Regions from separate parts of the Homo sapiens genome. Here region 1 is reported to be linked to region 2. Evidence: microRNA targets listed by miRTarBase, many of them from high-throughput screens and not tested one by one. Region 2 holds a microRNA gene; the other region holds the end of a gene's coding sequence.

Region 1 (4,384 bases), not on the chromosome of region 2:
GGAAAGATTTTTTTTAAGTATTAATAAGTGAATGCATTCTATTATTTTAAAAATTTGTGATGTCTTTATCCCTTTGTCAGCTCCATACTTTGCCCCATACACTCCCATACCTGTAATCAGGACCTCCTTTTTGTTCTAGCCCATGAATTCCTAACTGCACTCCTTTCCTGCCATGTGCTTGTGAGAGAAAAAAAAGCAGGCATAAACCTAATGCTAATAGAACGGTGGCCATGTGGTTTTTCCTTGTTTTCTTGTCCTTCCCTCCCCCTTATAAATCTCCAAAGGCCACCTTCCCATCCTAACTTTGGAAGGGTTTTCCCTCCAGGCTTGTCTCCCTGACTCTATAGGTAATTACAGCCACCTGGTGGCCATATGGGGAAATGACAGATGGATTGGCCCCCAAAAATCTGGTGAGACCCTCTTTTTTTTTTTTAACTTTTTTTTTTTTTTTTTTAGATGGAGTTTCGTTCTTGTTGCCCAGGCTGGAGTGCAATGGCACTATCTCAGCTCAATGCAACCTCCATCTCCCGGGTTCAAGCGATTCTCCTGCCTCAGCCTCCCAAGTAGCTGGGATTATAGGTGTGTGCCACCACGCCCGGCTAATTTTTTGGATTTTTAGTAGAAACAGGCTTTTGCCAGGTTGGCCAGGCTGGTCTTGAACTCCTGACCTCAGGTGATCCCCATGCCTCGGCCTCCCAAAGTTCTGGGATTACAGGCGTGAGTCACTGCACCTGGCCAGAGACCCTCTATGGAATAACTTTTGGTTTTGGATATTGGGGAAGCAAGGAAAGTGAATCCTATGGATAGAGACTATAGCACAGGAACCAGACATCCTATTTCTTGGTCCTTCCTTGCCTACTAGGACACAACATCCCCCCCACTAGGTATAGACGGATGAGTTCACTTAACATTGGAGTTCATTCAAAATTTATTGAGCTGCAACTGTGTGCTCAGCAATGAGAATATAGCAGTGAGCAAGATGTGAACAAGATCTCTGCCCTCGTGAGCTTACAATCTAGCAGCGCAGCCAGCCTATTACAGCCATAATTTTACAATTGTAATAAAAACTCTGGAAAATGCATGGTGCTAACTGATTTATCAGAAAGTCTTGACCCACCAAGAAATCAGAAAAGACCTCCCTGAGGAAGGAACATTTAGGATCAGCTAGGTGGAAAGTGAAAGGAAGAGTGTTGCAGGCAGAGAGGACAGTGTGTGAGGGTCTGAGGCAAGACATGTAATGAACTGAAAGCCAGTGTGTCTAGGCCATAGAGAACAAAGAGGGGTGTTGCGAGATGAGCCTGATTTATACAAGATCTTTGAATTTAGGACTTTATTCCAAAAGCAGTTGGAAGCCACTGAAGAAGCTAAGGAAAGTTCGATGTTTAGGTTTGTTTTTCATAGCTGACTCTCATTGCAGCATGGAAGTCAGAAGTGGAAATGGGAGAACAGGTTAGGAAGTTTCCGTAGCAGTTTAGACAAGAGGTGATGGTAACTTGGAGAAAAGAAGATAGGTTCCAGAGATATTTAGGAGACAGATTACACTTGATGAGTGACTGGATGTGTGAGGAAAGGGATGTGTTTCTAGCAAGAGACATTGAAGTAGGAGTCTCTGGAAGAGGGACAGGTTTTGGCAGAATGGGGACATCCTGTAGGCACAGGACAGGCCCTGAGGCTTGCACTAGAGGAACAGCATAGCTTTCATTCTCAAATAGTTCAGGGTTTAATTGAGCAAACAAGGTACACATAATTGCAGAGTTGATTAAAGATCAAAATGATCGATTTAGATAATTCATGGACTCCTGCATTCCATGGGGTTAGATTTAAACCCTCCATCTCACAGTAAATTCAGATACTGCCGAAGCCAACAGCAATGTTTCCACCTTTGTTCATGCCTCCCAAAGCCCCTCAGAAAATGCCTATATAGCCCACCAGTATCTCACAGGGGCCACCTTCTCCTGTGCTGGGCCCTGGTGTCCCCTGCCAGAAGACACACTAAACTCTTCCTGATTTGTTTTTTGCTTGCTGCTGCCAGGAAGTTCAACTGTCTGTCATTCTCAAATCTCCCCTCCTTAAGTTAAAGGAGACCAAATCTAGCCATTACCCCCAATAGTGGTTCTCTTTTGGTCACCAGGAGAGTTTTCTGACTTAGTTAGCATCTCTGTTTACATTACCCCTGTCGAGCTCCCTCTTTTGGAGTCACCGTCTTGCAACCCTGTCTTCCTCATCTTCTCCAAGTGGCAAACTGCCTCCTTTTTCTCCCTCGCCAAAGTGTCACTAATTTGCCGGCCTTTTCCCCACTCTAGTTTTCCTTCAAGTTAGTAAATACCCACCTCTTTGCCCCAAAAGGTCAGGAGAGAAATCTGGGGTATGGGATTAACAAAGAAGTAGCCCCAATAGCTATTGCTTAACTGACACTTAGCCTTCCTTGCCTCCTCTTCGCCACAGGAGAACTCTGCAAACTCCCTTCCAGAGACAATAACTGCAAACTATACAATAGGACCACAATTTCCTATTGTGCAGGGATCCTAGGACAAAGCCACATCCCAAATACTTGCTGAGAGCAGTGGCTACAAATGTTAACATGAGATTAGACATTGAGATGGTCCCTTTATATTGAGAGAACATGGACTTTGGAGTTGGGCAGACTTGAATTTGCATTCTGGCTCTAGTGGTTACTACCTAGTGTGGCTTTGAGCTATTAAACTTTCCAAAGTTTCGAAGGACTTATCTGTAACATAGTAATGGTAATCCACCTTATGGGGTAGTTGTCTTGAAGAGGCTATTTGGGAGGCTGAGGCAAGAGGATCACTTGAGGCCAGGAGGTTGAAACCAGCCTGGGCAACACAGCGAGACCCTGTGTCTACAAAAAATTAAAAAATTAGGCATTGTGGCGTGCACCTGAAGTCCCAGCTACTCAAGGCAGAGATGGGAGGATCACTTGTGCCCAGGAGCTCCAGGCTGCAGTGAGCCATGATTTTGCCACTGCACTCCAGACTGGGTGACAGAGCAAGACCCCTTCTCTTTGTTGGGGGCAAAAAAAAAAAAGAGGGTATATGAAGTACCTAGTATAATATCTAGCCTGAATTGCCTATAATGACGCACTTCCTTTCTTTCCCTTGGGTTTCAGCTGCCAAACACTCTTCTACAAGTAAGATAAGCCAGCTTTGTATGGTCAATGATAAACATTTCCTATTTCTTTGTAAATCCCATCTTCCTGCAGACATCTCATTTCCATCATTGCCAAAAAAGTCCTTCCATCCCTCACCCCTGTAGAACTACTCTCTCTTAACTATCAAACAGTTCTGCCTGAACTCTGACTATCCTCTTCTACATCTCCCTAAACCAAGGTACTTGATCTTCTTGTATCATTCCCAAAGATTAATTCACTAATTTTCTCAGAGCAAACTGTAATGAAGGCAGGGAATAGGGCCTTTACACTTCAGAAGGGCACAGGCTAGCTCCTGGAGAGGAGTGGAGATCTGGGTCCAGGCACCCCTCGGCCCCACCACTTTTCCTCAAGGCACAGAAAAAGCCAAACTCGAAATACGTCTTGAGTCTACACGAGTGTACATCTCCTTGCCTACAACTCCGTGAGATCATCATTGAAGTACAGAAGTATTGCAGGTGTGTGAAGTGTACCGTCCATACTGAGATAGTCAAATTCTTCCTCCTCATCCCGGATCCCATTCTCTTCCAGGGTAAAATCCATGTTCAGGTTCTTCCCTTCATATTTCCACGTGTAGCTGGCAGCATGTGAGTTATAGGGGAGATAGCGGTGTAGGATTTCCCATATGGACTCCAGAACCCCCACCTGGAGAACACAGAAGCACCCCACCCCCAGAATTCTGGATGGAGTATACATATACACACGCTGGGATCAAAGTGCCTCCCTTGGCAGATAGCAGCTTCAGGTACTCTACGGCCCCGGGAAAAAAAAGCTGAAACTCCAGCATGCAATGAGCAGACCCTAAAGTCCTACAGATCTTAATGGCAGCCACTTCTAACTACCGGATGGCCATAAAGGGTCAACTGTCCCCTCACTATATCCATGCAACAGAGTAGATTAAAAAGAAAGTCCAATTGCTGTCCAAAACGGCGTGTAAGAGCTTCGAAGGACCACCATCACTAAGATACATGAACTGCTGTTCCCAGGCTTATAAAGGAGTCTCTTGTCCCCCTGTGACCCAGACACTCCTAGAATTCCCAACCCTGGGGACCTAGGTGCTGTGCTTTCCTCAGTTGCCTCAATGTAAAGGACAGAAAATACACTCCCACCGGTTATGGAAAAAATGTTGCCCTGAAGATCGGCCTGGAGATTTGCTGGGATTCCCCATTCCTTCTAACCTGCTCCTTGTCACCAGTTCTCACCTCCAGTGTGTGCTCC
Region 2 (4,384 bases):
TCCTTCACTATTACGAGAACAGCATGGGGGAAAGTGCCCCCATGATCCAATCACCTCCCACCAGGTCCCTCCCTTGACACTTGGGGATTACAATTCTAGATGAGATTAGGCTGGGGACACAGAGCCAAACCATATCACCCTGCAAATCCAAGGGGGCACTCCTCTGGTCCAGCCCCAGCTCCTATGGGCTGTCAAAGCCCACTCCTCCCTCTCTGTCTATTCCCCCACCTCCGTTACCACACATAGGTAAGCAGTGAGGTGAGGAGTGTTGACCAAGAGGAACCCAACAGTGCACAAGTGGGAATCCCTGGGCAACCAAAGCCCATGCTGTGGGAGCAGATAAGATTGTTCCAGGCAGAATGCAGGACAAGGCCAAAAATAAAAACTGTAGTGGCAGCAGAACTCACTTTCAGTGAACACTTACTAAATGCCAGGTGCTGGGCCAACAATTTACACAGCATCTCATTTGCTGCTGGCAACAGCCAGCCCTATGGGGCAGGTTTGATTGCCATCTCAATTTTGCAAGAAGGCAACAGGGGTTCATAAAGATTCAAAACCACCTCTGCCTGCCTCAAAAACATTTGCTCTCAGCCATTGGACCGATAATAAAGCAGGAGGGGTTGCAGGGGCACAGTTGTCTAAGCACAGCTCCTCCCTTCCCTCTAGGAGCCGTTCAACAGCCCGGTGATCAATATACTTCCTAGTCATCAGCGAAGGGTAGGCGCTTAATGAATGCTTCTCCGCAAAGTGGATCACAATCACGAAGAAACCAAAGCTTACACTTCCGTTCCCCATATCTCCCACAGATCCAAAAGACCACGGGGCCCAGGACCCGGTCTCCATAGCCCAGCCATACCCGGGGGTTTTCAGGAAAGCCTCACTCGCGTCCTGCCGGGCGATCCGGGGTGGTTGAGTTGGGAGGGGGGCTACCCCAGTTTGTAAGCCCACCACGTCCAAATATCCCATCCAGGAGGCGCAGAGAGCAACCTCAGCATGCATAACAAAGCAGCCCGCGGCCGCGTTCACAGCAGGCTTGGCGGGGGTTCGGGAATTTCCACAGGGTCTCGGCCTCCCCCACTGTGGGCTCGCGCCTGGCGCCCCTCACCGGGCTTCCAAGCGCTCTTGTCGGTGTCGCTAGAAAACTCGCAGAGATTGGAGCTGAGAAAAGGCGGGCAAAGTTCCTTTTGATAAGTTATGAATGGGGAAAAAGTGTTTGTAGAACTCATTGTTAAAACCACGGAGCCCGAGACTCGGCCGGCGCCGGGCCAATCGGAACCCGGAGGCTATTTTGAAATCTCTCCCGTCTCAGCCAACAGGCATGCAGGAGGCGAATCCCCGCGCCAGCGCCGGCCAATGAGCGCAGCGCTATGCTAAGGAGTCGGGGGCCCGGCCCCTCCGACTGTCAGCGGGTTAAAGATGGAGCCGGCAGGCGAGGGGCCGCCACGAGGTGCAGGGTCGTCTGGACGGGGACCCGGGGGCAGACGATGGCCGGGATCCTCTTCCGTCTAACCCTCCGCGTCCTGACCGGGCCCTGGGCGGAAGGGATGTCTGCGTGAGTCAGCTGTGTCTGAGGAGGGGATCCTGGGCTGGGCTGGGCGGCCCTACTCGGCGGGTCAGGCGGAGGGGCGCGGCCGGGATCCCGGGGGCCCTCTTTGGAGCAGGGAACTCTAGAAGGGCGGGGAGCCCCCATCCTCTGCTCCACTCTGGGCCTCCAGGCAGAAGAATATGTTAGAAAAGAATCCAGAGTGTATCTAGTGCAGGGCAAGGGGCCAGGGATGGAGTCGTCAGCTAGAAGGGGCGCGTCGTCCCGGGGTGGGGCCGCCCTTTTTCTCCTGGAGCCGCGGGCCGAGTCAGGGCGCAGGGTCGTCGGGCTGTACCCACCCCGCTCCGGGCGCTAGCCGGCTTTGGACTGCGGCTGAGTGCGGGTTCGTCTTTGTGTGTGCGCCCCCTCCCCTGCGTGGCCCGTCAGCTCCTGCTCCGGGATTGGAACAACCCCCTAGTCTGGGGTTTCTCCTCCACCTCAATCCGGAGCGTTCTGGGAAAGGCCTGGGTGTCCTGGGTTCTGAAGACCCCAGGGACGCACCCCGCTGCGGTCTCCTTCCCTGCCCGGATGGACTGGACGGGGGCTCTGCCCCACCCACCCATCCATGGTTGAGCTTCCCGCCCTGCGTGTATTGGGGGTGGTGGGGTCCCCCCTGCTGGCCGCAGGTGCTCTGACGAGGTTGCACTACTGTGCTCTGAGAAGCAGTGCAATGATATTGTCAAAGCATCTGGGACCAGCCTTGGGGATCTCCCTCCCTATAACCCTCACCTCCCACTCCCCAGGCAGGGCCCCTTGGGCTTGCAGGCCCTCCCCTCCCCCCTACCCAATTCGCTCCCTTCTCCATGGAAACTTGAGATTCTAGACAGGCCTGGGCCTCTGGGGTCAGAGGGCACCCTTTCCCCCCGGGCAGAGGCCCCGCCCCAGCCAGCCTGCATTCCAGGTCTCAGATCCCTGCAGACCACCCTGGGGGAGGCACTGGCAGGCCTGCCCGACACTCTTTCCCTGTTGCACTACTATAGGCCGCTGGGAAGCAGTGCAATGATGAAAGGGCATCGGTCAGGTCCAGCCTGCTACCCTGGGAGGGGGAAAGGGAGCTTGCTGCCTCACTCCACTTTCCAGTTGAGAAGGTTGAGGTGCCCAGAGGGTAAGTGTTTCCACTGATTAGGCACAGATGTGAAGCTGGACTGGACCCTCCATCAGAGGATCAGGTGGGTGCAGAGCTGGAGAATCATCCCTAAACTCTCCATCCTGTCATGGCTGGACAGGTGCAGGAGCAGACCTCCCCAGCTTCTGAAAAGCTCTTGTTTGAAGGTCTTTCCACATTGGGTCCCTGGGGTAAGACTGGAACTCCAGGCCTGGTCAGGGTCTTAGGGGAAATACACGCCCAGTCTTTTGCATGGAAGATCATTCTAGGCCTGGCTTGGGCCCAGTCCTTGCTGGAAGCTTGAACAGGGCCAGGCTCTGGAGAGAATGTTCTTCTGGGTGGCAGTTGGGTAAGGGGGTAAGGCAGGCCTTTCAGGAGGCAGCCTTCACCCCAGGACGTCAGCTGGAGTGGTACTATGGACTGACCAGTTGACTGATCAGTTGAGTGGACTCAGCTGGAGTGGTACTATGTGAGATGGATGGGTGGACTTGGGATACAAAGCCTGCAAATGATGTCTACCAACCATGCCAGTTTGTTCTCTTACAGAGAGGTGTGCCCTGAACCTGCAGGAGGGACTGAGGTGTCTAACATTCCAACCGTCCCAGCTGGAATACAGGGTTGGAGCTGAACTTCCAAGGAGCCTGACCCCAGGCATGCTTGGATGACCACCTCTACCATCAAGACCTGACACGGTGCAAAAGGTTTCTACGTGCCCAGTCACAGTCATTCAAATCTTCTTTAGAGGAGGACTAGGTTTCCAGATGGGCTTTTGGGAGTTCCCCTCATCCCTAGCTGGGCGCATTGGGAAACTGCTTTACCCCTACCCTGGGGAGAGAAGCCCTGGCACCCGTGGGAGGAACAGGGGCAATGACACATGCTCCTTGGCTTCCTAGTCCTGATCCCTTGGGGTTCCTTGATCCTAGGGTCATCTGACTTAGATCCATCCTCCCTTCCTCTAGGCACCAGGGGCCATGGCTGGAGGTGGCCACCCCTCAGTCCTGTACAGATTCTGTACCCACTGGCTGGAGACCCCCATGCAGCTGTCTCCTGCTCTTGCTGCGGGGAGACTGAACTCAGGGCTCTGCTCACTGGCTCCCTCCCAATGGAAGCCTTCTCTGGGCTTCACAGCATTGAATATTCCTCCAGAACAGCTTGTTAAATCAAATTTTTTTTTTTTTAGATGGAGTCTTGCTCTGTCGCCCAGGCTGGAGTGCAGTGGCACGATCTTGGCTCACTGCAAACTCCGCCTCCCGGGTTTAAGCGATTCTCCTGCCTCGGCCTCCCGAATAGCTGGGACTACAGGTGCTACCACACCCAGTAATTTTTGTATTTTTAGTAGAAACGGGGATTCACTATGTTGGCCAGGCTAGTCTCGAACTCCTGACCTCATGATCTGCCCTTCTGGGCCTCCCAAAGTGCTGGGATTACAGGCATGAGCCACCGCACCCGGCCTAAATCAAAATGTTCTCCCTGTGGCAGAAGTGTCCATTAGACTGGGAGCCCCTGAGGCAGAGACAACTGTCATTTAAAAAATCTCTGGCCAGGCGCAGTGGCTCATGCCTGTAATCCCAGCACTTTGGGAGGCCGAGGCAGGTGGATCACCTAAGTTCGGGAGTTTGAGACCAGCCTGACCAACATGGAGAAACCCCATCTCTACTAAATATACAAAATTAGGCTGGGCGCAGTGGCTCACGCCT

What was found. Region 2 holds the annotated microRNA hsa-miR-301b-3p (CAGUGCAAUGAUAUUGUCAAAGC, at 2,246-2,268, shown strand). A microRNA usually pairs through its seed, bases 2 to 8, with sites in the 3' UTR of a target mRNA and lowers its output. Matches are read on the target gene's strand: a 7mer-m8 pairs with bases 2 to 8, a 7mer-A1 pairs with bases 2 to 7 and ends in A, and an 8mer does both.
Region 1: the mRNA of CYB5D1 is a reported target of hsa-miR-301b-3p. The part of its 3' UTR that is shown has no 7-base or 8-base seed match.

The regions. Positions count from the first base shown.
Region 1 is chr17:7,858,809-7,863,192 of GRCh38, reverse strand. It overlaps CYB5D1 (cytochrome b5 domain containing 1), which reads right to left. Exons shown (of 4, transcript NM_144607.6): 3 at 4,369-4,384; 4 at 911-3,811. The coding sequence ends at 3,581. It also overlaps a transcript of NAA38 not described here. Among named protein-coding and RNA genes, the nearest start is that of CYB5D1, 3.0 kb to the right of the region's middle. RefSeq lists an enhancer at 4,213-4,384.
Region 2 is chr22:21,650,780-21,655,163 of GRCh38, forward strand. MIR301B (microRNA 301b) reads left to right here and starts at 2,202; the gene lies at 2,202-2,279. It overlaps MIR130B (microRNA 130b), which reads left to right and starts at 2,525; the gene lies at 2,525-2,606. It also overlaps the pseudogene LOC107985532. RefSeq lists enhancers at 987-1,657, 1,658-2,329, 1,866-1,915.